Linked DNA regions of Homo sapiens. The protein of the gene in region 7 purifies or fractionates together with the protein of the main gene of each other region. This does not show direct contact. Each region holds a gene or a part of one and is shown on either strand. Other genes may lie near its edges.

Evidence for each region.
Region 1: the proteins of SEC16A (region 7) and OCRL purify together in Homo sapiens (co-immunoprecipitation; one large-scale study listed by IntAct). This does not show direct contact.
Region 2: the proteins of SEC16A (region 7) and GTSE1 purify together in Homo sapiens (affinity purification with mass spectrometry; one large-scale study listed by BioGRID and IntAct). This does not show direct contact.
Region 3: the proteins of SEC16A (region 7) and FAM83B purify together in Homo sapiens (affinity purification with mass spectrometry; one large-scale study listed by BioGRID and IntAct). This does not show direct contact.
Region 4: the proteins of SEC16A (region 7) and CLINT1 purify together in Homo sapiens (affinity purification with mass spectrometry; 2 studies listed by BioGRID and IntAct, with this or other methods). This does not show direct contact.
Region 5: the proteins of SEC16A (region 7) and CLTA purify together in Homo sapiens (affinity purification with mass spectrometry; 2 studies listed by BioGRID and IntAct, with this or other methods). This does not show direct contact.
Region 6: the proteins of SEC16A (region 7) and ITM2B purify together in Homo sapiens (co-immunoprecipitation; one large-scale study listed by IntAct). This does not show direct contact.

What each region holds. Positions count from the first base shown.
Region 1 is NC_000023.11:129,574,343-129,578,363, reverse strand, and holds part of OCRL (inositol polyphosphate 5-phosphatase OCRL), read right to left. Parts: intron 3,225-4,021; coding exon 3,114-3,224; intron 2,468-3,113; coding exon 2,302-2,467; intron 2,048-2,301; coding exon 1,812-2,047; intron 1-1,811. UniProt on the Homo sapiens protein: Catalyzes the hydrolysis of the 5-position phosphate of phosphatidylinositol 4,5-bisphosphate (PtdIns(4,5)P2) and phosphatidylinositol-3,4,5-bisphosphate (PtdIns(3,4,5)P3), with the greatest catalytic activity towards PtdIns(4,5)P2.
Region 2 is NC_000022.11:46,299,434-46,303,454, forward strand, and holds part of GTSE1 (G2 and S phase-expressed protein 1), read left to right. Parts: intron 1-4,021. UniProt on the Homo sapiens protein: May be involved in p53-induced cell cycle arrest in G2/M phase by interfering with microtubule rearrangements that are required to enter mitosis. Overexpression delays G2/M phase progression.
Region 3 is NC_000006.12:54,852,895-54,856,915, forward strand, and holds part of FAM83B (protein FAM83B), read left to right. Parts: intron 1-4,021. UniProt on the Homo sapiens protein: Probable proto-oncogene that functions in the epidermal growth factor receptor/EGFR signaling pathway. Activates both the EGFR itself and downstream RAS/MAPK and PI3K/AKT/TOR signaling cascades.
Region 4 is NC_000005.10:157,789,264-157,793,284, forward strand, and holds part of CLINT1 (clathrin interactor 1), read right to left. Parts: intron 2,733-4,021; coding exon 2,440-2,732; intron 1,389-2,439; coding exon of another isoform or gene 1,362-1,388; exon of another isoform or gene 1,337-1,361; intron 1,178-1,336; exon of another isoform or gene 305-1,177; coding exon of another isoform or gene 251-304; coding exon 100-250; intron 1-99. UniProt on the Homo sapiens protein: Binds to membranes enriched in phosphatidylinositol 4,5-bisphosphate (PtdIns(4,5)P2). May have a role in transport via clathrin-coated vesicles from the trans-Golgi network to endosomes. Stimulates clathrin assembly.
Region 5 is NC_000009.12:36,197,348-36,201,368, reverse strand, and holds part of CLTA (clathrin light chain A), read right to left. Parts: intron 3,819-4,021; coding exon 3,781-3,818; intron 2,391-3,780; coding exon 2,273-2,390; intron 1-2,272. UniProt on the Homo sapiens protein: Clathrin is the major protein of the polyhedral coat of coated pits and vesicles.
Region 6 is NC_000013.11:48,267,085-48,270,931, forward strand, and holds the end of ITM2B (integral membrane protein 2B), read left to right. Parts: 3' UTR 1-3,273; downstream 3,274-3,847. UniProt on the Homo sapiens protein: Plays a regulatory role in the processing of the amyloid-beta A4 precursor protein (APP) and acts as an inhibitor of the amyloid-beta peptide aggregation and fibrils deposition. Plays a role in the induction of neurite outgrowth.
Region 7 is NC_000009.12:136,472,868-136,476,888, forward strand, and holds part of SEC16A (protein transport protein Sec16A), read right to left. Parts: coding exon 1,182-4,021; intron 1-1,181. UniProt on the Homo sapiens protein: Acts as a molecular scaffold that plays a key role in the organization of the endoplasmic reticulum exit sites (ERES), also known as transitional endoplasmic reticulum (tER).

The DNA.
Region 1 (4,021 bases), on a different chromosome or scaffold from region 7:
ACTAAAGAAAGTAGGAACTGTACTACTCCAATAGAGACTTCAGAGACCTCACCAAATACTATATGAACCCAGATTGGATTTTGGTTTAAAAAAAGGTATAACAGAAATTCTTGGGACAACTGAAGAAATCTGAATATGGACCGAATGTTAAATGATACTATGGATTACTGTTAGTTTTCTTATACATAATAATGGTATTGTGCTTAAGTGTGCCCTTTTTGTTAAGAGATGCAGGCTGAAGTGTTCAGTGGTGAAGTGACATATTACCACTAAATTTTACATGACACAGCAAAAAACATCTGTGTGTATATATGTACAGAAGGCATGTGGGGGTGTGTTGTACTGTTCTTTCCATTTTTCTGCACATTTGACATTTTTCATAATAAAAAGCTGAAACAAAGAAAGCTGGGAAATAATGTCTGAGATGAAGGAAAGGGGGTAGGAGAAATAAGAAAAACAACTTCATCATCCAAAATGTATTCTAAAAGGTGAAATACTAAAATCTAAAAGACAGAAATATAATGTTAGGAGAAAAACAATTATCATGAAAAACAGCAGAACGGTAGGATATGAATTTCTGAAGAAAATGGTTCTCTCTCAAACAGAGGTAATATACTCAGTCATGAGGGCTCTGGGGAAATAAGTATAATTCCAAGAAAGAATGCCGGGGCTGGACTCAGTGTTTTAATCTGCTATCTGAGTCACAGCTAAAACAATTCCATGGCAACAGAACAGATCGGACTCAGACAAGCCAGCAGCCTGCCTGCTGGTCTAGACCTCCCTGCTAGATACAATCACTCGCTCTGGCTAGGCCTAAAGGATCCATGTGAATACTAATGGTAAGGATAACGTATGCTGTCACCTCACCTAATTTTCTTTGGTAAAAAAACCAAGAATATACTTTTGTAGCCCAAAGAGATTCTGCATACAATCCAACAATATTTTCATTTAGAAGGAAATTTCTTAATACAATGAACTTTATTACTAAATCAACTTATGTTACTGAAGATAGTAAGTACTTCCTTCATAAAAACATTAATATTATAGCTTGGCTTGAGGGAGAGGTGGGAAAATCAACCTCCTTTTCTTTCTTAAGCACATCACATTAAGTAAGTATCAAATTTCAATGTACATTATAAGCATCTGGAATGCGGATAAAATGCAGATCTGTAGGCTCCATATCCTGAGATTCTGATTCCATTGCCAGAAGTGAGGGTACCTGTAATAAGCACCCCCAGGGATTCTGATTCAGGTACTCCAGGGTTCCAGGATAGTTCTATGCTTCCATAAATAGCAAAGTTTTACTCTGATTAGATATAATGTGGTATTAGTGAGGAATACTAAACTGGGAGCCAGGAAATCTGGGTGCTAGATTTGTTACTAACTGATGGTATTTGACTCTGGGCACGTCAATGTCTCTGTGCCTCAGTTTTCTCATATGCTCAAATGAGGATAATTCTGCCTGCCCCACTTAGCATACCTCACGTACATGCTAATTTATACAAAAGTGACTTGAGAGTATGAAGAGCTTAACAAACAAGCATTATATCTTTGAGAGGGGAGTCTTTAATCTTATTTGGTGAGCTTAGTATTATGTATTGTACTCACAACAAGAGCCAACTGCAGATTAGTCCCCCCTCTTTCCCCTTAGGCTTAATCTAATCAAAACAGTGCTAAAGTAACATTCTTCTTTATCATTTGACATCCCCCGTGGCCAAAAGAAGACAGAAAGCACAAAGATAATGAGGACGTCACTTAAGTATTGTGAAAATTAAATGTAAAAGAGGTTTATGTCTTGGGACAGTTCTTACCAAGTCTATGAGTTTGGTAACAGGAACTTCTCGGATTGGTCTTTTCATACGGCACAGAGCCTCTAAGGATGTGCCAAAACAACTTGGGAGGTAATTTCCACTGATAGTCAAGAAGTAATCTTTGCCTCGATCCAGGTGAAGGACGAGAATATCTTCAATCTTATCTTCTCCCGAGTTCAGGATGGTTACAGAGTCTTTGCTGACATACACATCAAGAGAAATGTCCACTGTCTCATCTGAAATGTAAGAGATGATACATGGTAATAGGAAAACCTCCAGTGGGAAAGCAAAAAAGAGTATAAGAACCAACAGAAAAGTGTCCTCTAAAAAAATCATTAAGCAATGAGGGGGAAGAGACAGGACACACACCAGAGGTATCACCAATATGACAGTAAAGGTAAGAGACATGTGGTTAGAAAACAGAAAGTTAAACCAAGGGGATGGGAGTCATGACATCACCAGCAGAGACAATGGTAAAGGGAAAACTCACTTGGCTCCAAGTAGCCCTCAAAAGGTTCAGCCCGAAGCCATGGCTTGCAGTACTGGCTGTCATTAAGTTTAGGGATGAAAGAAAAATGGCAGGGAACCTGTCCATTGTTGCTGATCTGGAACTTCTCCTTTTGTAGTTGCCGAAACTTCACATTTTCAAACACAAACTGGGGAATAACAGACAGACACAAACATGCATCACTAGTAGGGGAAGTAAGTCAGTTGGATTATTCCATAGAGGATATGAGGAGTAAGGTAATTGTTAAGCAGGTGTGCAAATGCCATAGACATTCACCAACTGAACCAACTTCACAACATCCACTTGCATGTATTATTATACTCACACCAGCAGAGAAGGAGTTAGGTGGCTCTTGCTACTTCTCCAGGCTACTCTGATCATTCCTAGGATCCTAAGAGGGTAACCCAACCTTGGTTCAGAGTATTCATCCTGTGACCAAGTCCTGGTTTCTGAGATATAAATTAACTAGCAACTCTGAAATATTAAATAAGAGCATCTAACAGCGGAGGGCTTACTATGTGCCGGGTGCTGTTCTGAGAGCTTTGCATGTATTAACTCATGTAATCCTTACAACTACCCCTTAATCCAGGAAAGGAAACTGCGGCTCTGAGCGGGTAAGATACTTGCCTGAGGTCATACATCTACTAAACAGCCGTGCTACAACTGGAATGGAGGCAGTCTGACTCCAGCGACATGGGCTTAACCACGTTGCTATGTAGCCTTTTCTAAGTAGCAGTTTCTTCTGTGCTAACCACAGTGAGCAGTAGACAGGGAGATCATGTATTTTTGCTCACCTCCCTCCTGCTGAGTTCTAAGGAAGGAAGGAAGTCATTTTCCATTCTGTCCATGATGCGTACACTATCTTCAAAGACTTTCCGGTACCTTCGTTCATCCACAACCTTCACCTGAAAGAAAATGTATCCTCTTTTCAGTCTTATATCCTTCTAGCTCATCTCCCTTGGAGATTATCTAACAATTTAAAACTGGTCATTACAGTAACTATTTAAAATAAACTGTGGTGCAAACAACATCCTCAAACACTCTCTATATCTTGCTTCATCCACAGCTTGCACCTGAAAGAAAACAGATCCTTGCTTTAGTTTTATGTGTTCTCAACTTTTATACCTCCAAGAGTCTCTAACAATTTTTAAGGTCACTAAAGCAAACATAAATTGAACAAAGCATTATAGAAGCACACGCTTTAAGGTAAAGGTAAGATTAATTGGCTAACGTCCTGTAAAAGTTAAACCCCTACGTTAAGAAGCTTGGTAATAATAAATATTTGGGAAGAATATTTTCTTGCTTCATTGTTAAGTTATTTGGTAGTGGAAAAAATGTGATAATTGTGGTAAAAATGATTGCTTGCACTGTACAAAATGACAGTGTCAAAACACAGCAATTACTGTTTCTAACAATCATAACTTGGTGAGGTGGCAGCAAATATTATTAAAAAGCTTTTAACTCTATTAGATTCTATGTACAATACCAAGAAGTATAATATCACTGCTCAGATTACATAATAGCAGAGATATATTAATAAATGGAACCTACAGCCATTTTAGAAAATGGCTGAAACAAAATGTCCTAGACTAGAGTAAAACCATGACAACGTATAAACACATCTCCACTGATAAAAAAATTTTCCACCTGACACAGCACTTTCAGCTTCCTGATATAGCTGTGTTTTTTTAAATATTAAAAC
Region 2 (4,021 bases), on a different chromosome or scaffold from region 7:
CATACCCCCTCTGCATCTGCATACCCTGTTCTTTTTGTCTTTCTCATCACCCATTTTATTTCTCCATTTCACCCAGCTGTGCAAGCTGAGAACCTCCTACATTCATGCCATCACCAGCTAACGTCTTCTCCACCTTCAGAAGATATCCTGAATCCATCTACAGACTCTCCATCTCCATCCACATGCTGCTGTCTGGGTCTCAGCCACGCTGTCTCACCGGCTTCTACTTCCCGTTGGCTAATATGTGCATTTGTAATGTCAGGGGATATTATCTGCTTCCTTTCGGATACACTTTCTACACAGTAACGTCACCTTTTAAAAACACAAGTTAGATTATAAAGCTCTTTTCTTTTCTTTTTTCTTTTTCTTTTTTTTTTTTGAGACAGAGTCTCACTGTTGGCCAGGCTGGAGTGCAGTGGCGTGATCTCGGCTTACTGCAACCTCCGCCTCTTGGGTTCAAGCAATTCTCCTGCCTCAGCCTCCTGAGTATCTGGGACTACAGGCGCCCGCCACCACGCCCAGCTAATTTTTTTTTTTTTTTTTTTTTTTTTAGTAGAGATGGGGTTTCACTGTGTTAGCCAGGATGGTCTCAATCTCCTGACCTCGTGATCTGCCCGCCTGGGCCTCCGGAAGTGCTGGGATTACAGGCATGAGCCACTGTGCTCAGCCTTTTTTTTCTTTTTGAGATGGAGTCTCGTTCTGTCACCAGGCTGGAGTGCAGTGGCGACATCTTGGCTCACTGCAACCTCCGTCTCCTGGGTTCAAGTGATTCCCCTGCCTCAGCCTCCTGAGTAGCTGGGATTAAAGGCATGAGCCACCGTGCCCAGCTAAGTTTTGTATTTTCAGTAGAGACGGGGTTTCACCATGTTGGTCAGGACGGTCTCGAACTCGACCTCAAGTGATCCGCCTGCCTCAGCCTACCACTGTGCTGGGATTACAGGCATGAGCTACCACGCCAGGCCTAAAATTCTTTTCTTAAAGCCCGGTAATAGTTTCCTATCCCACTTTGGAGAAAATAAAAGCTCCTTGCCATGGCTTGCAAACCCTCTGTGATCTGACCCAACTTGTGTTTTCACCTCTTCCAGCCACTCTGACTTCTGACCCGTTCCTCTCACACACGCTTTGATATTTTCTCAGAGGTGTTCCCACCTCTACATGTCTCTCACCGCACTGCCTGAGGCACCCTCCAGGGTGGGCTGCATGTACCCCAAGCCTGCCTGGCACCTAGCGAAGGATGTGGTCTGTTGTGGGTGCTCATGTGTTTGCAGGATGAGCAAGTCAGCCAGCCCGGGACCCCTCGGAGCCAGTCACAGAGCCTGGAGCAGAAGACTGCTTCCCTGAGTTCTGGTCCTGGATTCTTTTTCCACGCCAGACCATTAGAAGTTTCTGAAATTGACTTCCTAATTTAGAGGTGTAAAAAGTGAAATGTCTGCCTCTCTATATCTCTAAGTCACCTACTTGCCCTTCCAAGGGCCATCGATGTCATCAGTCTCTTGGGTATCCTTCCAGACATAATTTGTGCAGGTGCAAGCCAACACGCATAGAGTGTTGCATCCCCCTTTCCATATAGCATGGAGAGCCCTGTCCTGAATCTTGTTTTTCAGGCTTAATTTATCTTGATGAATATTGTGTATCAACACATGAAGAGCATTACTAGCTTTTGTACCTATATAGGGTTCCACCTTGGGGATATGTCATTCATCTCATCTGCTGTGGGTGAACATTTAGTTTGTGCCTAGAGTCTTGCTGTTACCAATGATGCTGCAGTAAATAACTGTGGACACCGTGTAACTGCACAACACATTGCTTTCCACACCTGTGAGTGTCTGTAGGATACACTTGCAGAAGTAGACTTGCTGGGTCGAAGAGGGTGTGTGTTTCTTACTTCGATAGGTACTGCCAGGCCCTCTAGAGAGCTGTGATAATTTACACCTTCCCCAGCAGTGTAGAAATTGTCTCTTTCCCCACAACCTTGCCTATAGTTCATACATCTTTGAGTTTTGCCAGTCATATAGGCGAAAACTGCATTCTCAGAGCAAGTTTATTTTTAATACTTTTTTTTTTTTTTTTTAAGACAGAGTTTCCCTTTTGTCCCCTAGGCTGGAGTGCAATGGTGCGATCTCGGCTCACTGCAAACTCCCCCTCTCAGGTTCCAGCAATTCTCCTGCCTCAGCCTCCCAAGTAGCTGGGATTACAGGCACCTGCCACCAGGCCTGGCTAATTTTTTGTATTTTTAGTAAAGATGAGGTTTCACCATGTTGGCCAGGCTGGTCTCGAACTCCTGACCTCAGGTGATCCACCCGCCTCGACCTTCCAAAGTGCTGGGATTATAGGTGGGAGCCACAGCGCCCAGCCTCATTACTCTTATTTTTGAGTGAGGCTGAACTTCTTGCCATCTATTTAAGAATGTTTCGGCCAGGTGCGGTGGCTTGCGCCTGTCATCCCAACACTTTGGGAGGCCAGGGTGGGCGGATCACCTGAGATCGGGAGTTCCAGACCAGCCTGACCAACATGCAGAAACCCCGTCTCTACTAAAAATACAAAATTAGCCAGACATGCTGGTTCATACTGATCCCAGCTACTTGGGAGGCTAGGGCAGGAGAATCGCTTGAACCCAGGAGGCAGAGGTTGCGGTGAGCCAAGATCGCGCCATTGCACTCCAGCCTGAGCAACAAGAGTGAAACTCCGTCTCAAAAAAAGTAAATAAAGAAAAATAAAAAAGAATGTTTTGTTTTATTTTCTGTGAACTTTATCTGTTTGTATCCTTTTTCTATCTTTATTAGATTATTAATTTTTTATTACTTTATAGATATGCTTCATGAATTAGCCCTTTATGAACTGAGTTGCAAATATTCTTTTCCCCATTTCTTGTTTAACTTATTGTGATTTTTGCCACACAGAGATGTTAAAATTTTAATGTTTGAAGGTCAATCTTTTATTTTTTATTTATTTATTTTCTGAGACATGTTCTTGTTCTGTTGCCTGGGCCTGAGTGTAGTGGCGAGATTGTGGCTCACTGCAGCTTTGACCTCCCAGGCTCATGCGATCCTCCTTCCTAAGCCTCCCTGGTAGCTGAGACTACCACGCCTAGCTAATTTTTGTATTTTTTGTACAGACAAGGTCTCCCTATGTTGTCTAGGCTGGTCTCAAACTCCTAGGCTCAAGCGTTCCTCCCACCTCAGCCTCCCAAAGTGCTGGGATTACAGATGTGAGCCACTGGGCCCAGCCGACCAATCTTTGGTAGCTTCCAGTTTAGTGTCATAGTTAGAAGTCCACACTCCCAAGTTACAAAAGTTTCCTCATAGCTGATTCTTGTTTGTTTAGGGCTTTGTTTTTTTTCCATTAAGTCCTTGATTTGTTTGGAATTAGGCCTGATGTGGTGTGAGGCATGGACCAAACTTAGTTGGCATTTTTCCAGATGATTATGTAGTTTATTTTAATACCATTTTTTCACTTTCCCTCTTTTTTTTTTTTTTTTTTCTTTGAGTTGGAGTCTTGCTCTGTCACCCAGGCTGGAGTGCAGTGGCGTGATCTTGGCTCACTGCAAGCTCCGCCTCCCAGGTTCATGCCATTCTTCTGCATCAGCCTCCCAAGTAGCTGGGACTACAGGCACCTGCCACCACACCCGGCTAATTTTTTGTATTTTTTAGTAGAGATGGGGTTTCACCGTGTTAGCCAGGATGGTCTCGATCTCCTGACCTTGTGATCCACCCTCCTCGGCCTCCCAAAGTGCTGGGATTACAGATGTGAGCCACCCTGCCCGGTCTACTTTCCCTCTTTATTTGATATGTTACTTTTATGATATGCCAAGTCTTCTTTATATCCATTTTGCATATTTCTTGTTAGGTTTGTTTATCGTTATTTTGCATCTTTCGTTGCTGCTAGAAACGAAGTATTTTCTTCCATGTTATCTTCTCACTGTTCTTTGTAGATATGAAAGCTGTTGATTGCTCTGTAATGATTTTGTCCTTAGCCATGTTCTTTTATCCTTTTACTACTTATAGTAGTTTCCAGTTGATCT
Region 3 (4,021 bases), on a different chromosome or scaffold from region 7:
AAATTTGTGAACTTTCCTAAAAGATTATTCGATTTTTGTTGCAATTTTTTTTTCTTTTTTTAAGCTCATTGGCTATTGTTGTTAGTGTATTTTATGCGTAGCCCAAGACAATCCTTTTTGGCCCAGGGAAGCCAAAAGATTAGACACCCCTGGATAGATCAAGCCAGCCACAACATTCTCTGCCAAAGCCTAATCCAGAGCAAGACCTTAACTCTCTTCAATTCTGTGAAGGCTGAGAGAGATGAGAAAGCTGGAGGAGAAAGGTATGAAACTAGCAGAGGTTGGTTCCTGAGGTTTAAGAAAAGAAGCTGTCTCCAAAATGTAAATGTGCAAAGTGAAGCAGCAAGTGCTCATGAAGAAGCTGAAGCAAGTTATCCAGAAAATCTAGCTAAGATAATTGATGAACAAAGTGACACTAAACAACACATTTTTAATGTAGGTGACACAGCCTTCTAGTGGAAGAAGATGCCATCTAGTATTTCAGAGCTAGAGAGGGGAAGTCAATGCCTGGTTTCAAAGCTTCAAAGGATAGGCTGACTGACTTTTTAGGGGTTAATACAGCTGGTGACTTTTAAGTTGAAGCCACTGCTCATTTACCATCCCAGAATGCCTAAGGTCTTCAAAAATTATTCTAAATCTAGTCTGCCTGTGCTCTGTAAATGGAACAACAAAGCTCAGATGAGAGCACATCTGTTTACAGCAAGGTCTACTGACTTTTTAAGCCTACTGTTGAGACCTACTTCTCAGAAAAAAAAGATTCCTTTCAAAATGTTATTGCTTATAGACTGTGCACCTGGTCACCTAAGAGATCTGATGGAGATTAATGTTGTTTTCATGCCTTCTGACACAACATTTGTTCCATAGCACATGGATCAAGAAGTGACTTTGACTTTTAAGTTTTATTATTTAAAAAGGCATTTCATAAAGCTATAGCTGCCACAGGTAAGTGATTCCTCTAATGAATCTGAGCAAAATAAATAGAAAATCTGGAAAGAAATCACCATTCTACATGCCATTAAGAACATTTGTGATCCATGGGAGGCGGTCAAAATATCAACATTAACAGCAGTTTGAAAGAAGTTGATTCTAACTCTTGTAGATGTCTTAGAAAGGTTCAAGACTTTTGTGGAGGATGTAATTGCAGATATGGTGGAAATAGCAAGGGACCTATTAATAGAATTAGAAGAGGAGCCTGAAGATGTGGCTTAGTTTTTTCAGTGTCATGATAACACTTTAATGGATGTGGTGTTGTTTCTCATAGATGAACAAAGAAAGTGGATTCTTGAGATGAAATCTACTCTCTTGGTGAAGGTGCTATGAACATTGTTAAAGTGACAACAAAGAATTTAGAATATTATAAAAACTTAGTTGGTAAAACAGCAGCAGGATTTAAGAAGATTGACTCTAATTTTGAAAGAAGTTTTACCATATGTAAACTGCTGTTAAACAACATTGCATGCTACAGAGAAATCGTTTGTGAAAGGAAGAGTCAATCTTTCTGGCAAAATTCGTTATTGTCTTATTTTAAGAAATTGCTATAGCCACCCCACCCTTCAGCAACCACCACCCTGATCAGTCAGCAGCCATCAACATCAAGACAAGCCCCTCCAATGGCAAAAAGATTACAACTTGCTGAAGGCTCAGATGATAGTTAGCATTTCTTTAGGGATAACTTATCTTTTGACTAAGGTTGTTCATTGATGTTTCAGACATAATGCTATTGCACACTTAATAAGCCACAGTATAATGTAAACATAACTTATATATGCACTGGGAAACCAAAAAAAATTTGTGTAACTCATTTTATTGCAATACTCACTTTATTGTGGTGTCTGGAACCCAACCTGTATTATCTTCAGCGTATGCCTAGGTGTGAAAGTCAAATTTTATATTCTAATACAAGTCAAATTTTATTTTCTAGTAGCTAAAATATAAATACAATTGACGATTGATTACTCTGTAAACATTGTAAACACAATATTCAACAATATGTTTCTAGTATTTTATACTTTTAAAAAATTGTTCCTTTTCTTCACAATGGAACACGTGTGCAATGGTCATCTGATCAAGACCAAAGGGCCGCTTCTCTTGGCATGTACAGTGAAGTTCATCTTTGCTTTAATTGTATCCAAATTATAAACATCCTGTCACTAACTTCAGAATTTTCATTTTTCCAGTTTTCAAAATTGATTATAAGTTCAAATTGCAATAAAATATTCAAATAAGTGTGCAAATACGCAGTAAAAAGAAATACAGTGATATTATTGAAACTGCATATTGACATGCTGGCAGCCCCATGTACAGTAAAATGAAATACTTAGTAATTGATGGATTAAAGACTAGAATTATTAAAGTTGTTTTGAGTGTCAATCTCTCATGCAGAAAAGTTCAGGATTTTCAAATGTCAAAAGAGCTAAGTAGGAGATCACTTATACATATAATTGAAAATTACAGCATATGGCTACAATTTCTATGTCTGTTAATGTCAGACAAAAACATCAGTCCATATACGTTGAAAAAAATATAGAAAGTGGTTTATTGCAGAAGCACTTATTTGTGTGATACTAGGCCAATTCATGTCCGTTGATATCTCAATATATTATCTGAGAAATCTGTCACCTTTGGTTCATACTCAAAGCCATACTCATAGCTCTGTTATTAACATAAGGTCTTCAAACTATTTGAAATTCTATATTTTGTTTATGGAGTGGCTTTACTCCCATTTAGCATGTTAAATCTTGTATGTGGAAGAATTAGAATAAGACATTTACAGGAAAAGAAGAGTGTTAAATCTCTCCAAGGTCATTAGATCCAAAATGTGATTCCACAGAAATTTGGGGTGGATCCAAAATACGATTCACCAAAAAGTGGGGGCAGGAGCCCTTGAAATCCTAAGTATGTGTGTGGATGTATCACACACAGAGTAAATAATTTGATAAAACCATTAATTACTTGAGTTAAAGAAATGAATCATCTTTGATTTTAATGTAACAATGTAGAAATTCCATTGTCTCCCAAATAATTCAGTTTATTTTGTATACATATGATAAATATTTTTGATTTGTACAGAGGATGGTTAAAACTGAAAGAGAAGAAAGGTATAGATAACATAATCAATGATGATTCCATGGAAAGGGTGCCAAGGTCTTTTCACTTAAGATATGTAGTGTTGTAGCAATTGCTAAATAATGGCCACAACTCTTTGGGGAAAGCTTAATTGAGAGACTAAGTGAGGAGCCCTGTCTTTGAAATCAGTTAGAACTTTGAGCTGCGAAGGAGTGGAAAAAGCAAGATTTACTCATGGACTCACATATACACACCCATATGTAAATTGTGCAGAGCGATAAGTCAACCAGTGATAGCTGCAATACCATGTGGCCAAGTCGTCTCCCTCTCCCCCACTGTTATGCTGACATAGGCCTTAAGGACAAATGAAAGTGAAATAAGCTGCCAGGTGCATTTTCTGGTTCAGGTGTGGTTTAAGCAACTGTGACTAGCAGAGTTCTATAAACATCAGCTTTGTCTCAGAATTGCAGTCTTGCAAGTTAGCCCTGCTGTCAGAAGAATTGAGCACAATTGTAGAGAGAGAAAGCTGAGAAACCAAGTGACTGTTCATATGTAACCCACAAGTCCTAGAAATCTGTCTATATAAATCCAGCAGCATTTTACACATTTAAAATATATATTTCTTTATTTATCTCTTATTTATTAACTTCCCTGTGTGCAAGTGCTCTATAAACAAGTAAAGAAGCCAACAAAAAAGGTTATTTTGAAAAGAACAAAAAGTCGAACTAGAGTGGGCTAGTTTTCTGATCAGATTTGTTGGCAGTTTCTGGGGTAACATAAAGAGAAAAGCACTTTTTTCAGTTGTGATACAGCTGTCTAGGCAGGCTTGATTACAAGTGAATCCTAAGGGAAATGACTGATAAAGAATTGGTAGGTATTGGGATTATTTTTAGATATTCTGATTATTTATATGGCTCTTTAACCAAGTGAAAACTAAAAGCTTTCCAGGCTAGAT
Region 4 (4,021 bases), on a different chromosome or scaffold from region 7:
TTTATGTGATATATTTTTATTTATAGTTTGAAGTAGTCCTGGCATTAAGGCAAAAGACTGCAAGTACACAAAGAAGTGGGACGTCTTAAGGTAACTTACTCTGTTGCTGAATCATTGTATTCAGTGATGGCTGCTGGGGTTTGGAAGGCTGCATACCAGGTAGTAAGTTGTCTAGGCTGATGTTTACACTGGGGTCAGACCAAGTAGAGGGCAAGGTTTTGCTGACTGATTTCTGGACCATATCTGTATTCTGATTATAGAGAGGATTAGGCTTCTGCAGCACTGTGCTAACATTTTGCAAAGGCTGGAAAATAGAAAAATGCTCTAAAAATTAAGCATCTGTTCTATAAAAATTATCAGATGGCAATTTAATCACAACAATGAACTTCTGAAACAAAAAGAACCACTAATGTTCTATGCTAATGTCTTCAATACCCTGAATCATTAGCTTCCCAAAGAGGTTCCTCTGAAGTCCCAATCAGGTTTGAGGTGGATAAAACCAACAACTTACCTACACTAACAATTATTCTCCCATCACTCAAAGTCTAGAAGCCACCATCCCTGGCAAATGCCCAGGGGAACTACCGATTTTAGGTTAGTACAGCTTTAAGGAGATACACAAGTGGACATTTATTCTTTCAAAACAGAATTCAGAGGCCAGGCGCAGTGACTTATGCCTGTAATCCCAGCACTTTGGGAGGCTGAGGTGGGCAGATCACCTGAGGTCAGAAGTTCAAGACCAGACTGGCCAACAGGATGAAACCCCATCTCTACTAAAAATACAAAATCAGCCAGGCATGGTGGCACATGCCTGTAGTCCCAGCTACTTGGGAGGCTAAGGCAGGAGAATCACTTTGAACCAAGGAGGTGGAGGCTGCAGTGAGCAGAGATCGTGCCACTGCACTCCAGCCTGGGCGACAGAGCGAGACTCTGTTTCAAAACAACAAAACAAAACAGAGAATTCAGGATATGATGTCTCACATTATACAAGGATATAAGGCAAAACTGTCAAAAAGCAATTTATATTTCACATATCCTGACATTTTGCTGTTCTGTGTATACTTTTACTATCTAAAGTGAGCAACACTAACTGAACTGATTAATATATGGAACAATGTAGGAGAAAGAAGAAATTCAGGAGAAAGAAGCAGAGGTTCCTAGTGGTTATTGAGGATAACTGAAAAGGACAGAAAAAAGGAACAGGAAGAGGAAGAATAATTAAAAATGTACCAATGCAAAGAATTATGACAGTTACAATTAAGACTGCAAATAAAGTAGACTGACTTTATGCTTAACTCATACATTAGGTCTTATTTCTGTTACATAGAGCAGTCACCTTTCTGCTTCTTTCTTCTTTTCCTTCATCCTAATACCCCAAAGACGAGAATCTACACATTAAAATGAGTAATTAGCATCATAAACACATATTCTCAATAGTTTGAGTCAAAAATAGCAAGTTCCTGGTACCATTCAGACACATATTTTCCAAGCCTGCACTTGTCTGAATTCTAAGCTAGTACTAGGTAATTCGGATTTAACTATAAAATAGTGAATTAAGAAGCTCCCATTTTGGTTGTTTTTCTTTATGAAAATGAAAGTTGAAAGATGAGCCTATAAAACATTTATATAATGTAGAGCAGGTCCAGAATTGGGAAGAACATTCACCATTCGAGAGAATGATTTTCCATATTAGCAATAATTATTTACAACCAATGAGTGATATTTCTTTAGGGACATGACCAGAAATTTTACTAAGTGGATACTTGCCGTAAGTGAAACAATATCTCTATTTCTTTTTCTTTTCCTTTTTTTTGAGACGGAGTATCACTCTGTCGCCCAGGCTGGAGTGCAGTGGCGCGATCTCAGCTCACTGCAAGCTCCACCTCCTGGGTTCACGCCATTCTCCTGACTCAGCCTCCCAAGTAGCAGGGACTACAGGTGCCTGCCACCATGCCTGGCTAATTTTTTGTATTTTTAGTAGAGACTGGGTTTCACCGTGTTAGCCAGGATGGTCTTGATCTCCTGACCAAGTGATCCACCCACCTCAGCCTCCGAAAGTGCTGGGATTACAGGGGTGAGCCACTGCGCCTGGCCTATTTCTTTTTCTTAAAGACAATTTAAAAAAACTATCAAGTACCAATTTGTTGTAACAATAAATTTTTGCCATGTTCCTCCTCTGTGCAAAGGCACCATGCTTGGCTTTACAGTGACTACAAGATGGGGGAGAAGGTCTTGCCTTCCAGAATGCAAATGACTATGCTAGGGGAGAGTATGAGGTAAATGAAATGTGCAAATGCGTATATATACACACACAGACACATATTCATACACATAAAAAGGACTTGCTTATTTTTCTGTTTTATACTAATCTATCATTCAATGAGTTAGAGCATCTCAAAGATTATAAATAACAAATTCCAAGGGAACCAGACAACTTACCTGTGATCTTGACATAGGCAAACCAAGTCCCACAGTGTTAGTGCTCATCATAGAGAAATTCATACTCTGGGAAGATGTCATGGTTGCCTGGGACGAGCCCATAAGATCAAACAGGTCTGAAGAATTTGAGGCAGCAGGAGGTGGGCCTAGAGCTGATTGTGAGCCACTAACAAGTTCTACCGCTGGCTGTGAGGCACTGCCAAAGAACTCGCCACTGGAAGCAACAGGGCCTGATGGGGCTTGGTTGAAGGCACTCCAGTCACCAAAGTCTCCATTCCCACTTGTTGCTGTTACTAAGACAGAAATAACTCTAAGGGTAAGAAACTTCATGGAATGCACAGAACAAATGTAACAATCTATGAACTGAAACAAATTAGAGCTGATCTGAGTCCCCCAGATTAACATCTGCAGGTACCATCTCCATCTGGACAGTATTCTTTCTCATAAATATTACACGAGAGTTAACAAGGTGGCAAAGAAAAAACAAACCTCCCAAATATAACGTAAAATCCATCTCTTGGCAGCTCTGTAGGTGACACATTGAATTTACCATAAAAAAAAATGGCCAGGCATGGTGGCTCACGCCTGTAATCCCAGGACTTTGGGAGGCCGAGACAGGTGGATCACAAGGTCAGGAGATTGAGACCATCCTGTCTAGCACGGTGAAACCTCATCTCTACTAAAAATACAAAAAAATTAGCTGGGTGTTGTGACACACACCTGTAGTCCCAGCTACTTGGGAGGCTCAGGCACAAGAATCGCTTGAACCCGGGAGGCGGAGGTTGCAGTGAGCTGAGATTGTGCCACTGCACTCCAGCCTGGGTGACAGAGCGAGACTCCGTCTAAAAAAAAATGAAGAATTTCTCACTTATTTGGCCATACTTCCACTGACAATACAAGGGCTATAACCTTAGCACATTGCCTGCTTCAACTGGGACCATTTATTTACAATCAAAGAGAGGAGGAAAACTCATGTAATATTAAAAAACACAACCAAGCCAGAAACAAGCAAAACCCTATCATACTTTGCAAGTTTAAGGTTGAATGCATAAAATCCATACTCTTAATCACTACAGTCTTATCAATTAACCTCTGATCAATTTTTATATTGAAAGGAACAGATAAATACGCATAAATGGAAGTTGAAAAAGCAAAATGTGAAGAAAGAGCTACATAAAAACCGTCATCTGAAAGCAAATAGTAAGTATGTACCTTCCAAGTTAATTAACACCATCCCTTTGCATTCCATGTTCATTTACAACTTGGAAATACATTTTGTCTAGCCTAAAAAGTGACCAACCACTACAATACCATGTCTCATTATGCTAAATATCAAAAGAGAATAATAAGGTGAAGTCTTTAAAATTACATTCTTCTATTACCATATTAAAATGTAAGCACCCTTGAAAGAGAAAATAATTCACTTAGAAACTCCAAGTTCTACTAACAATTTAATATAAAAATTGGGCTAATTTCTTTACCTCAGGGTTTTACTAATACACGTCTTTGATCTTTTTTTTTTTTTTAAGTGACTGCATTAAGAGTTTTACAGTTAGTTCTAGATATTAAACAATTTAAACTA
Region 5 (4,021 bases), about 100 Mb from region 7:
ACCCTCGTTACTGGTCAGAGAAAAGAAAATTACTTGAGAATGTAGCCAGCAGCTAGGCTGAAAACCACTGGCACCGGTTCTCTATTTTTAGCATCGCGTGCTTTCTCACAGTTTTTGCAAGGAAAAAAGGTGAAATTGAAGGAACACCTTGTTCATGAACCAAGTGAATTCAATTCAGTTGGAATGCAAGGCCAAATGTTGTACTTCTCTCAAAAAAAGCACTTTGAATTAAGAAAACAGCTCATAAGAGTATTCCCCAAGTACCCAATTTCATAATTGAAAAATTAAATCTTTCCAGACACCAAAGTAGACTCTCTCCATGGAGAAGAAAAACTGCTAGAGCTTGGTAAAACAGAAAAGATAAATTTGGGTTCTGTAACATGAAAAATACTACAGCAGTACTAAGACCAGCTAAATCTTGCCTCTAAGCATACTCAAGAGACACAAAGAACAAGCAAGGACCAAAGCTGTTAGGACCTATTTTCATCTTCCTACAGCTCCACTGTCCAATATGGTAGCTACTAGCTACATGTGGCTACTTCAATGTAAATTTATTAAAATTAAAGAAAATTTAAAATTCAGTTTCTCAGTCACACTTGAATTGTGAAGCCACACTTCAAGTACTTAACAGTTACATGTGGTTAGTGGCTACCATACGAGACAGCACAGATACAGAATATTTCCACCAAAGAAATCACTAATGAATGGTGCTATAAAGGTTCAAATACTAAGTGCATTCTTTGTTCTGAAAGCCACCTAAATTGGACTAGAGAGATAAATGATTTGGCACTAATTGGCTGTGTCATCTGGGTCATGTCCCTTCCTATTTCTGGGTGTCAGTTATCCCATCTGAAAAATAAGGACTCATGTTTTCACTAGTTCAACAGTTCCCAAGAGGGAATAATACTGCTGACGTTGTGGTTACATAGGAGAATGTCATTATTTCTAGGAGGTGTACATTGAAATATTTAGACACAAAGTATATGATGTCTTTATCTTAAAGTAGGTCAGCCAAAACAATTTGTGTGTGTGTATGTCTAAAACATATCATTTATATAAAGATAATCCATTAATTACTGAATCTGGGGGTGCACATGTTTATTTTCCTCCTTTCAATTGTTCTGTAAAGTTGAGAAAAGATGAATCTTAAAGTCAGCTGATTAAAAAAAGAAAAAGAAAAAACAAAGAAAAGGCCACAATGTGGATTATATCCTCACACTCTGCATACTTCTCCAATCCACCATGTACAGACACAAGTCTCCCCTGATCATGAACCAACAGGTGACACTCCACGTACACATCTCTTTATCAAAGGCCAGGCTGTGTGGCTAGATGGCCACGCACATTAAATGTTTAGAAAGCAATGTGGCTGATGGGGATGGGTAGTGACTTTGAAGCAAGGCAGACTTCAGCTGAAATTGTGACTCTTACCATTCCTTAGCTGAGTATTCCAAATACTTATTCTACCTCTCCTCCACTTTTCTTACCTGTAAAATTGTAAAACTTACCTTACAGAGATATTAAGGTAGGAAAAACAAATTGTACATTTTTTCCTAACATACCTCATTTTCCTCGTGTTACTTTAAATTCATTTAGCCTTCAAATAAAAAATGGAGGCCGGGCGCGGTGGCTCACGCCTGTAATCCCAGCATTTTAGGAGGCCAAGGTGTGTGGATCACAAGGTCAGGAGATCGAGACCAACCTGGCTAACACGGTGAAACCCTGTCTCTACTAAAAATACAAAAAAAAAATGAGCGGGACGTAGTGGCGGGCGCCTGTAGACCCAGCTACTCAGGAGGCTGAGGGCAGGAGAATGGTGTGAACCCGGGAGGCAGAGCTTGCAATGAGCCGAGATCGCACCACTGCACTCCACCCTGGGTAACAGAGTGAGACTTCATCTCAAAAAAAAAAAAAGAAAAAAGAAAAAAGAAAAATGGACTGTTAAAGTCCACGGACATAGGAAACTTGAATCCTTCAAGTTTATAAAGCACTCTATAAACACCACCTGAGGCTACTCTTGAGGTCAGGAGCAGCATCACTATGCTCTTCCTGTGAGAGGATCTTGGGGATCTCCGGCTACCCTACTCCTCACACAATGGCCTGTGATTAGGCATCTCTGTGCAGGTAGCCTTGTAACCTTCAGGCTGAGAAGATATCTTCCCAAAGACCAGACAATGACACTGGTTAATGTGAGCTAAAAAGGAATAAAAGTAGAGTCCAGCTCAACTACTCCACTGAAAACAGACACCAAAACACAGAAGGGATTCCTTACCAAGGGCTTCCAAGCGTTCCATTTGTTCTTCTCTCCATTTACGGATACTTTCAGGCTCTGACTGCAATCGATCCACTTGTGAAATAGCTGCATAACTGTCTGTTGGACCATTACTTTCCTTAACACAAAACACAATTGTGCTATATTAATACCAAAAATTCCTTCCTAAAATGCACTTCACCTGAGTTAGAACCCCTGGTTCTGTTTTTTTTTTTTTTTTTTGAGACAGAGTTTTCACTCTTGTCGCCAAGGCTGGAGTGCAGTGGCACGATCTCGGCTCACTGCAACCTCCACCTCCCGGGTTCAAGCAATTCTCCTGCCTCAGCCTCCCGAGTAGCTGAGATTACAGGTGCCTGCGCCTGGCCTATGTGGTTGCTTTTTTTTTTTTTTTTTTCTGGGGTGGGGGAAGGGGGGACGGGACAGGGTCTTACTCTGTCACCCAGACTGGAGTGCAGTGGCGCAATCTTGGCCAACTGCAACCTCTACTCCCCGGGTTCAAGCAAATTCTCCTCTTGCCTCAGCCTCCCCAGTAGCTGGGATTACAGGCACATGCCACTACCGCCTGGTTAATTTTTGTATTTTTAGCAGAGACGGGTTTCACTGTGTTGGCCAGGCTGGTCTCGAACTCTTGACCTCAAATGATCCACCCACCCCAGCCTCCCAAAGTGCTGGAATTACAGGCGTGAGCCACCGTGCCCGGCCTGTGTTGTTGCTTTTAAGGTAATCCTTTAACATTTTACAAAAGCCGCCATTGTTGTTAGAAACGGGTTCTGCAGTGAGCCAAGGTTGCGGTGGCTCTGGCGGGGTGCGGTGGCTCACGCCTGTAATCCCAGCACTTTGGGAGGCCAAGGCGGGATGGTCACTTGAGCCCAGGAGTTCAAGACCTGCCTGGCCAACATGGCGAAACCCCATCTCTACTAAAAATACAAAAAATTAGCCGGGCGTGGTGGCATGCGCCTGTAATTCCAGCTACTCAGGAGGCTGAAGTGGATGAATCGCTTGAACCCAGAAGGTGGAGGTTGCAATGAGACAAGATCGTGCCACTGCACTCTAGCCTGGGCGACAGTGAGACTGTCTCAAAAAAAAAAAAAAAAAAAAAGACTCAAATAAATGTTAATCTTTACAAAATTATTCCATATGCCACTCACTGAACTAAGGAATATTAATATTACCAGGTTAACCTAATCAGACTATAAACAAAGATGGAAGGAGAATTATTTAAAGTATTAGTATTAACTTACTGCACTCAACACAGTATCATTTGAATGGTGATTTCTTTAGAATAAAGGTGATAACACTAGGGGCAGGTAAATAACATTTTTAAACAGTTCTCTTTTTATCAATGCTACCTCTCTTTAAATCTTTCCACTTTGGTAGATAACACACCAGCCAGTAATACATTCAGGAAAGTCAAAGGACTGGGGTTTCTTTCTAGGTCAGTCAATTAAAATCACAGGAAAGGAAGATTCTCAATCACTATCAATGAACAGAATCAGAGTACTCTGTACCTGGTAGTATTCACCATTCATTACTCCATCAACAGCATCTGCAAGACATAAGATTTTGGTCTATCAATAAGGACTGGTCAAACACTGGGCCAAAGGGTTGTACAGTAGAATACAGCATCATATGCTGTATGAACCTTGAGCTACTAAATGCTATCCCTGTGGTAGGTGCTATATACAACAAATAAAACCAAGATGTGCTTATATACAAATTTCACCAAAATGTGTACACATCTGTCCTTAA
Region 6 (3,847 bases), on a different chromosome or scaffold from region 7:
AAAAGTCCGGGAGTCCTGCACAAAAAATTACTGCCCTTCTTGATTTGCCAATTATGCCCCTGCTGGGAAGCATGAAAGGAGAGAGAAGAGCTTTCAGAATGTCAGGGATAAATATATCCATTAAGCCTTCAGACTAAGATGCAGGAATAGTTTTCCATTTGGGTATGAATACGGCAAGTTCTTAGAACATTTCTTAAAACATAATTAGCCAAATACTAGTGTAACAGCTACAACTTATCTAGTTTTAATCAACTCCAGGGAACATTACACTTTATTTAACCCCTAATTATCTGATAACCCAAGTTCTGTCAGAAACACTGCTGAGGCATCCAGGAAGATGAGCCTGTGAAATTTGAGAATCCTTCATGTCTCTGGAATGAGTCCCTAGATTCTAGCCCTGCAGCTAGCTGACACTCTAAAAAATTATGAGTGCCTTCCTTTAGCTCCCCATAGAAATGTCTTTGTATAACCATGGCATGATATTATTCTCTTGACTTTTGTTGAGGATTGATAGAAATAAAAATGAGCCAGAAATGTTTCTTCAGCTTTTGTAAAGTGCTGTTAAAAGCATTATGTCATATCTAGTACTTCTTATCTAAGTATTTTAAAATTTAGTGTTAGGAAAATTTTTTTCACATAGGATACATGTTAATATTAGGTAGTACATCTAAAGAATTCATTTGCTTCCCTTTTGCCTTGGTTGCTGGGAAACTCAGAGCCAAACTCGGTGCTTAGATTAATTACTTTCAGCCTAGGTTTTTCTGTATATCACCCTTTCGGTAGGGCTTGAAGTAACCCTTCAGTTTGCTCATATTTTGTTGTGAGTTTTATAGATAGTTTACATGCAACGAAATGCATATATCTTAAGTGTTCAACTCAGTGAGTTTTGACACTTTTCTTTGTCCATGTTAACAATCATCAAAACATTTTCATTGCCCCAGAAAATACCATTGTGCTCCTTTCCGGCAAATATTCCTTCCCTCTGCTAAAACTACTTTTTCATTTCTATGACCATAGTTCAGTTTTTGGCTATTCTTGAACTTTATTTGAATGGAATCGTACATATATAATCTTTTTGTTTGGCTTTTAAAACTCAGTATAACGTTTTGACATTTGTCCATGTTGTTGCATGACTCAGCAGTTCTTTCTTTTCAGTTGCTGTGTAGTAGTCCATTTCTTTTGGTTTTGTGTGTGTGTGTGTGCTTTTTAAATTTATTTTTTATTTTTTTTTTTTTGAGACAGAGTCTGGCTCTGTCAACTCAGGCTGGAGTGCAGTGGCATCATCTCGGCTCACTGCAATTTCTGTCTCCCAGGCTCAAGCCATCCTCTAACCTCAGCCTCCCGAGTAGCTAAGACTCTACAGGCGTATGCCACCATACCTAGTTTGTTTTTGTTATTTTTTTTAGTACAGATGGGGTTTTGCCATGTTGTCCAGGCTGGTCTCGAACTCCTGGGCTCAAAGCAATCCACCCTCCTCGGCCTCCCAAAGTGCTAGGATTACAAGTGTGAGGCACTGTGCCCTGCCAGTATTCCATTTTTTGTGTATACCACAATTTATCATTTTTTTCTGTGTAGGTATTTTCATTGTTTCCAAGTTGGGAAGTATGAATAAAGTTGCTATGAACATGCATGTACAAGTCTTTGTAGATAGCTCATGTTTTAAAAAGTGTTTGTTTAATGATTTCATTGCAAAATCATCTTTATTGTAAACATATCTTTTTGAGGGTAGATTGGTAAAATATACATAATAAATACATGACAATGCAGGAGTCCAAGTATTATTAGGTTTACAGTCATAACAAACACCAAGAACCATTTATAAATTTCAGTTTCTCATTGTTTTAGAATGGAAGGTCTAACCAAATATGTAATGTATCCCTTCAAGTAAACTAGTATAACTTGGGTACCTTCTCATATAAATTCCCCTTAAGGCATACGTTGCTGTCTTTTCCAAATTCCCATTTTGCTTGTCCAATAGGCATTATCAGATACAACATGTTCAAAGGCAAACTTGATTTTCCTCCCATGGTTTCCTCATCTCAGCTCCTTTTTTTTTCCAGTTGCACAGGCTAAAAATAGGAAGTCATTCTAGATTCCTCTCTTTTTCATAAACCTCACATCAAATCCATCAGCCAATCTGGTGTGCTCTACCTTCAAGATACGGATTATCCAGAATTCAGCCGCTTCTCACTGTCTCTACTGCTAACATAGTAGTCAAAGCTGCTATCATCTCTTGCTTGGATTGGTGCAATGGCCTCACAACTGATCTTCCTGCTTCCATACTTGACCCCTAGAGCCTCTTCTAAACAGAGTAGCTAGAGCGATCTTTTCTAAATCTAAGCCACATCATGTCACTCCCCTGCTCAAATCCCAACATTTTATTCAGAATAAAAGTCGAACAATGCCCTACCTGTAGGTAATCTAGGCCTCCAAAGCTCTTCTTACATCACCTCCTGTAACTCTCCCCCTTTCTCACTCCTCTACAGCCACACAGCTGCCTCACTTTCCTTTGAACGTACCAAGGGCAATCCTGCTTCAGAGCCTTTGCACTTGCTGTTTCTGGGCCAGGAATTCCACACCCTCCTTCCCTCACATGTATCCCAAGGCTCACTGCCTTCCTTCAGTTAAGTCTGCTGGAATGTCACTTCATTAGGTATTGCCTGATCACCTTTTCTAAAGTGAGTCTCACCTCCACCCTCAATGCTGGCAATGTCTGTCTGTAGTGTATTCTTAACAATACAGATTAGCACAATGCAGGCCAGACCATGAAGACTGTTTCAAGTTCGAGGATGGGCAAAAATAATGACTAGGACTTGGCTCAAGATTCCTCAAACAGCCAATAAACAATGCAAAGAATAAATGAGAGAGTAATTGGAGACAAGCTTTCCCTTGGCTTCCCTTCTTTTCTCACAGAGGCTTTTCCAGAAGGTGGTCATTTCCATAGCCCATGTGGAATGAGATGTCCACTAGGGCAGAGAAGCACAGAACCGTGGGCACTGCTTCCCTTCCTTTAACCCTATCATATTGCTGCCCAGTGAGCAATATGGTCATTGGTCAAGAAGGCTTATGCCCAGGTATCCCTGTGGCTATGAGCATTGCTCCTTATCTATGCCTCTGCTCTTAGACTTTTCCATTCTGCCCTCTTAGGGGCCTTCCTGGCCATGACCACACTACCTTATTTTTCTCTATAGTACTTATCACCATCTGACATGTATTTATGTTTGTATTTGTTTATTGTCTGTCTCTACAAATAAAATGTAAATTCCCTAAAAACAGAGACTTTATTATTTTTGTTCATGTTACATCCTCAGCACCTAGTAAAGCACCTGGCACGTATTAGGAACTCACTAAATATTTACTGAATGAACTTTGTTCAATAAATTTAACATGGTTCTATGTAGCCTCCTTTTTAAAAATTGGCTCTGTTATATAGACTTCAGGGGCAACTGATAACAAACAAAACCAAACTTGGCTTTTTTCCCTTTTTTTTTTCTTTAATTGTAGTTTCAGAATTTCATCTGGGAGTGGGAATGGCCACAGGAATGCAAGTTCTGTACACCTCAGATTTGGTGCTAGTGATGTTGCCATGTTAAGAAAGTGAGCTGGGCCTTGTGCCTTCAGTAGACAGAATCAAAATCTATTACTTTATTTTAATACCCGAAGTTCAAATTACCTCTTAGGTAGGGATCCCTTAAATGTGATAGTGCTGAATCACAATGGAGGAAAAAAATGGCAAAGAGTATATTGAAATTCAGACTGATTCACAGGTAAAAGGCCTCTTGGAGACAACACTCTGAGAAAGGGACTGCTTTTTTAAAAAATCTGCATGTTTTGGGGTCGAATGGGT
Region 7 (4,021 bases):
CGGCGGGAGGAGTGCACTCCTGCGGAGGGAGGTGGCTCGCAGCAGGAGGACCGGACAAAGGACCCGAAGTGAGGCCACGGCTTCCCGTCGCTCTGCACCAGCCCCACCCCAGGGCTCCCAGCAGAGCTGAATGTCCTTGTATGGAAATAAAAAGTGCCTGGGCTCCTTCTGGAACCTACACAGGTCTGAGGGGTCAGGTGTGCACCTGGTCACACGCACACAAACCATGATGCTCGAGGCCCATGGGGGAGGCCCAGCCCCATTCCCCGGGGCAGTACCCAGCAAGCCACGGCAGCCTTGCTCCTCGGGGCGGGCCCCCTTCTGACTGCAAGGCCTTCCTGTGTGGCCCCAAGTCTGGTTCCAACTGGCCTTACATACCGCAAGACCATGGTTTTCCAATTCCCTATCACACAATCCTTCTACCTGGGGTGACACTGAATCGGTGAACCCAATCGGTGTATGTTGAACTGGGTTAGAGGGTAGGAAAAGCAGATAATGATCAAATGTGTACACAGACACTTTTCGAACGACTGCAGGATTATGCGGAACCTAACTCAAATGTCACTCATGAGCTGGTGTCCCTGTGAAAAAGAGGCACAGAAGAATCTTCTGCACGAGCACAGCCGGTCCCCGAGCCGCTGCCCGCACCACCACGTGCTGACAGCAGCTTGCGGGACTCCGCCTCGCTTAGCTGATGCGTGTGGCTCATGCTCCAAAACTATTTTCTCTCCATGTTTTTATTCTCCAGGGGCATTTAAAGGACTATGGTTATACCCAATGCTTCTGACGTAAGCTTCCAGAGGCTAGCCCAGCTTCCCAAGGCATGCAAGACAGAACTTTTCTGCAGACAGCCAGCAGGAGCAGGGGTGACAGCAAATGGAGGGCTCTTTTTGTCACATAAGCTGGGGAGGCTGGTTCAAATCCTAAGCAAGTATTATAAGCAATTCAAGATGCTAACGCGTGGTGTGAACTAAGGGTGGCCTGTGCTTGGGAGAGTAGGTTCTGGAGCCGGGAGCCCTGTCCTCAGGAAGCGTTACTGGAATACTGTTCTCACGCCTGCGGGACTGTGGGTGACCCCGGAACCAAGCGAACAAACACTACTAAGGAATACACTGTGAGTGAGACTCAACTGGTCAAAGCACAGACAGAAAAGTGGGTTACACATACGACTCGACTCTTACCTGGTAATAGAGGGAGGCTGCGCCAGGCTCCGGTGGGTACGGCAAAGAGTACTGAGGCTGGTAGGCATCGTACAAAGGCCGGTAGTAGTAGTAGGCGGCCAGGTCCTGAGGCGGTGGGCCGGGGGCAAGTGCAGGCACTGGCTGTGGCCACGGCTGCTCTGACGGCACAGCTGCCTGGCCGGAGCCACTGGACACCAGAGACACGCTAGAGGACTGAGGAGGCCGAGGGGGCAGCTGCTGACCCGCGTCGACCAGAACCAGACTTGCTGGTGACTGTGCTGAGTTCTGGGCCTGTCCCTGTGCGGGCAGACTTTCTGGATTTGACAGCTCCGAAAACATGGCTTTGGGTAGTTGTGGGGGAGAAGCCTGTTGCTGGGGTGGCACCAGCTCCTGCTGGGCTCTTTCGAGGCCAGGCTGGCCCTGGGCATCTTTCGTGACCTGCTGATAAAAACGGTCAAGGTTAGGCGCCCCAGGCCCAGATTGTCTGGGATGACTGGCAACACTTTGCTGAGAAGCGAGGCTGTCAGAATGGGACGGGTTGTACACGTTTACAGGATTTTCCAAAGTCCTGCTTAAGGTAAAGTCTAGGGCTCCGTAAGTGTCTTCCTGATGACTGGAATGGTTTGCCTTATTACCATCAGGCACCAGGGTGCCGTGTGCAGGTGGAACTAACACCACACTTGTGCTTCCAGCAGGGCTATTAGCAAATCCGGGAAGAGCACTTCCTGCCTTACGATCCTTTTGACTTTCTGGAACCAAGTTCTCTGGAACTGGCTGGGATGGTGGTTGAACCAGCAAATTAGCAGGCTGATTAGAAACCATTTCGGAAGCACCAGAACCTTGTGGAAAATTACTTTGGGCAACACTGCTAGGCAGAGACAAGCTAAGGACAGAGCTGGTTGGAATCCCAGACAAAGAAGTGTTCTCCCCAGAATCACCACCGAGAGCCCAACTGCTGACTGCAGGTCTATCCCCCACCAAAGCCTCTCTCCAGGACTGATTCTTCTCATGAGAGTTCGATAAGGACACAGAAAAGTTAATGGGCTGAGCCAGATTATAGCTGTGATCAGGCTGAGCAATCAAGACTGGAGGATTCTGCAGAGACTCAGTGGGCGGTGAGGATAATAAACTTGCATAACCAGAACTCGCCTGGGACTGAAGGGCCTCCTCCTCTCCCATTTTGGGAGGATTCTCAAGGTTCTCAGAAGCACCAATGCCACCTCGGCTCTGCACCGGGGCCGCCGAGCTTGGGTTCCGTGACTGCTGCCCGGACATCGCCTCTTCTGGAGGCTGAACAACAGGTGGCTGAGGTTTTGCACACACATAAAGCGCCGGGGCTGCAGGGGCCAGAAGGACGTTGCCTCCAAAATCTGGCAGCTCACTTTGCGCCCACAGAGTCGTTGCTGGGCTCTCACACTTCACGGGCCCCTGGGTCCTGGCTGAAGGCCTCTTCTCGGGTGCTGGATACACAGTATCCAAGGGCGGTGCCCCTGCGTGCGGAAGCATGTGCACAGCTTCCGTGGTGGAGTTAAGAGGCAGGGGACAGACCTGGGGTGCACAGAGGGTCTCCATGTTGTCTGGTGGCTGCTCCAGGTTGCCAGGGGAAGCATCGGGCAGGGCGGCAGCTGGTCTGCACTGCTTCTGGCGGACACAGGTCTCCCTTACTTCACCAACCACGTTGGCGCGATCTGCCTCAAATGGTTTTACCCCAACTAAGTGAGATTTTACCGGTTCGAAAGAACTATTTGCACTTGTCTGAAATATTCCTGTAGGTTTCGGGGGGCTCGGGGTTGAGGGCTGGGACACGCTGCCACGGTAATTCTGGCTCACAGTGGTCTCGTCTGTTTCACCTCCTACGGGAGAAGAATCGATTTGCTTAAAAAAACTACCTGAAGCTTCATCCTCGGGTTTTCCAACTTCTTGCTGAATGAATGTGCCAACCAGCTCCTGGGGCCTGGCTGAGCCTGAGAGCCTTCCGTGGCTTCTGCTGCTATAGCTGGATGACACGCTGTCAGGGTGCACTGTATGCAGTGTGGCATCAGGGGCTCCGGTGTGGCACACAGCACCATGCCTGGGCACAGCTGGCCCAGGAAGGGGCCCATATCTGAACTGGTCACTCGGGGAGGAAGGGTCCAAATTGAGGGGCTCACTTGGCAGAACTTCTTGATTCTGAACAAATTCTAAGTTCTCAACATTCTCATACTGCGAGCCGCTGGCATCCGGCACCCCTGTGCTCGCTGTGTCACCCCACACATCACCAGCAGCCTCATTGCTGGGGCCTGGGAGAAGGGCCTGGCAGAGGCTGCCTGCCCCCACGTGTGTAGGTGCGGGCGGACGGCCTAGCCCAGGGCTGGAGCAGAAATCGTCAAAGTCCGCTTGACCAGATAAGCCTGCTTTTTCAGATGAGAGATTCTCCTCATTTTCTGTCTCTCCCCCTTGGAAAAACATCGCCAGAGCTCCTGAAGCTCCTGAGTCTGCTTCTAGCGGGGCACAGCCAGACCCGGCCCCAGCCCCCAGTGGGTGGTGCGTACGGTTTTCTGGGCTATCTCCCCGGGCGAGGGGGTTCACAAGAGCAGAGGCGGGCCGGTGCTCATTCTTCACTCCTGGATTCTGCCTGAGCTCTGGGCTTGCCCAGTGATTCACAATTCTGGGATTTTGCCTGAATGTACTTTCAGGATCAGAGTTATTGGCCAGGTGGCTTCCACTTTGCAAGTGGCTCACCTCGTCTCTTCCGTCACTGGGCAAGGCTGCTGGGGGAGCCACCAGAGGGCTGTGTTGCTCATGACCAGGGCCCTGATGTAGGATGGACGGGGTGGGGAAATGAGGAACGCTGGTGGCAC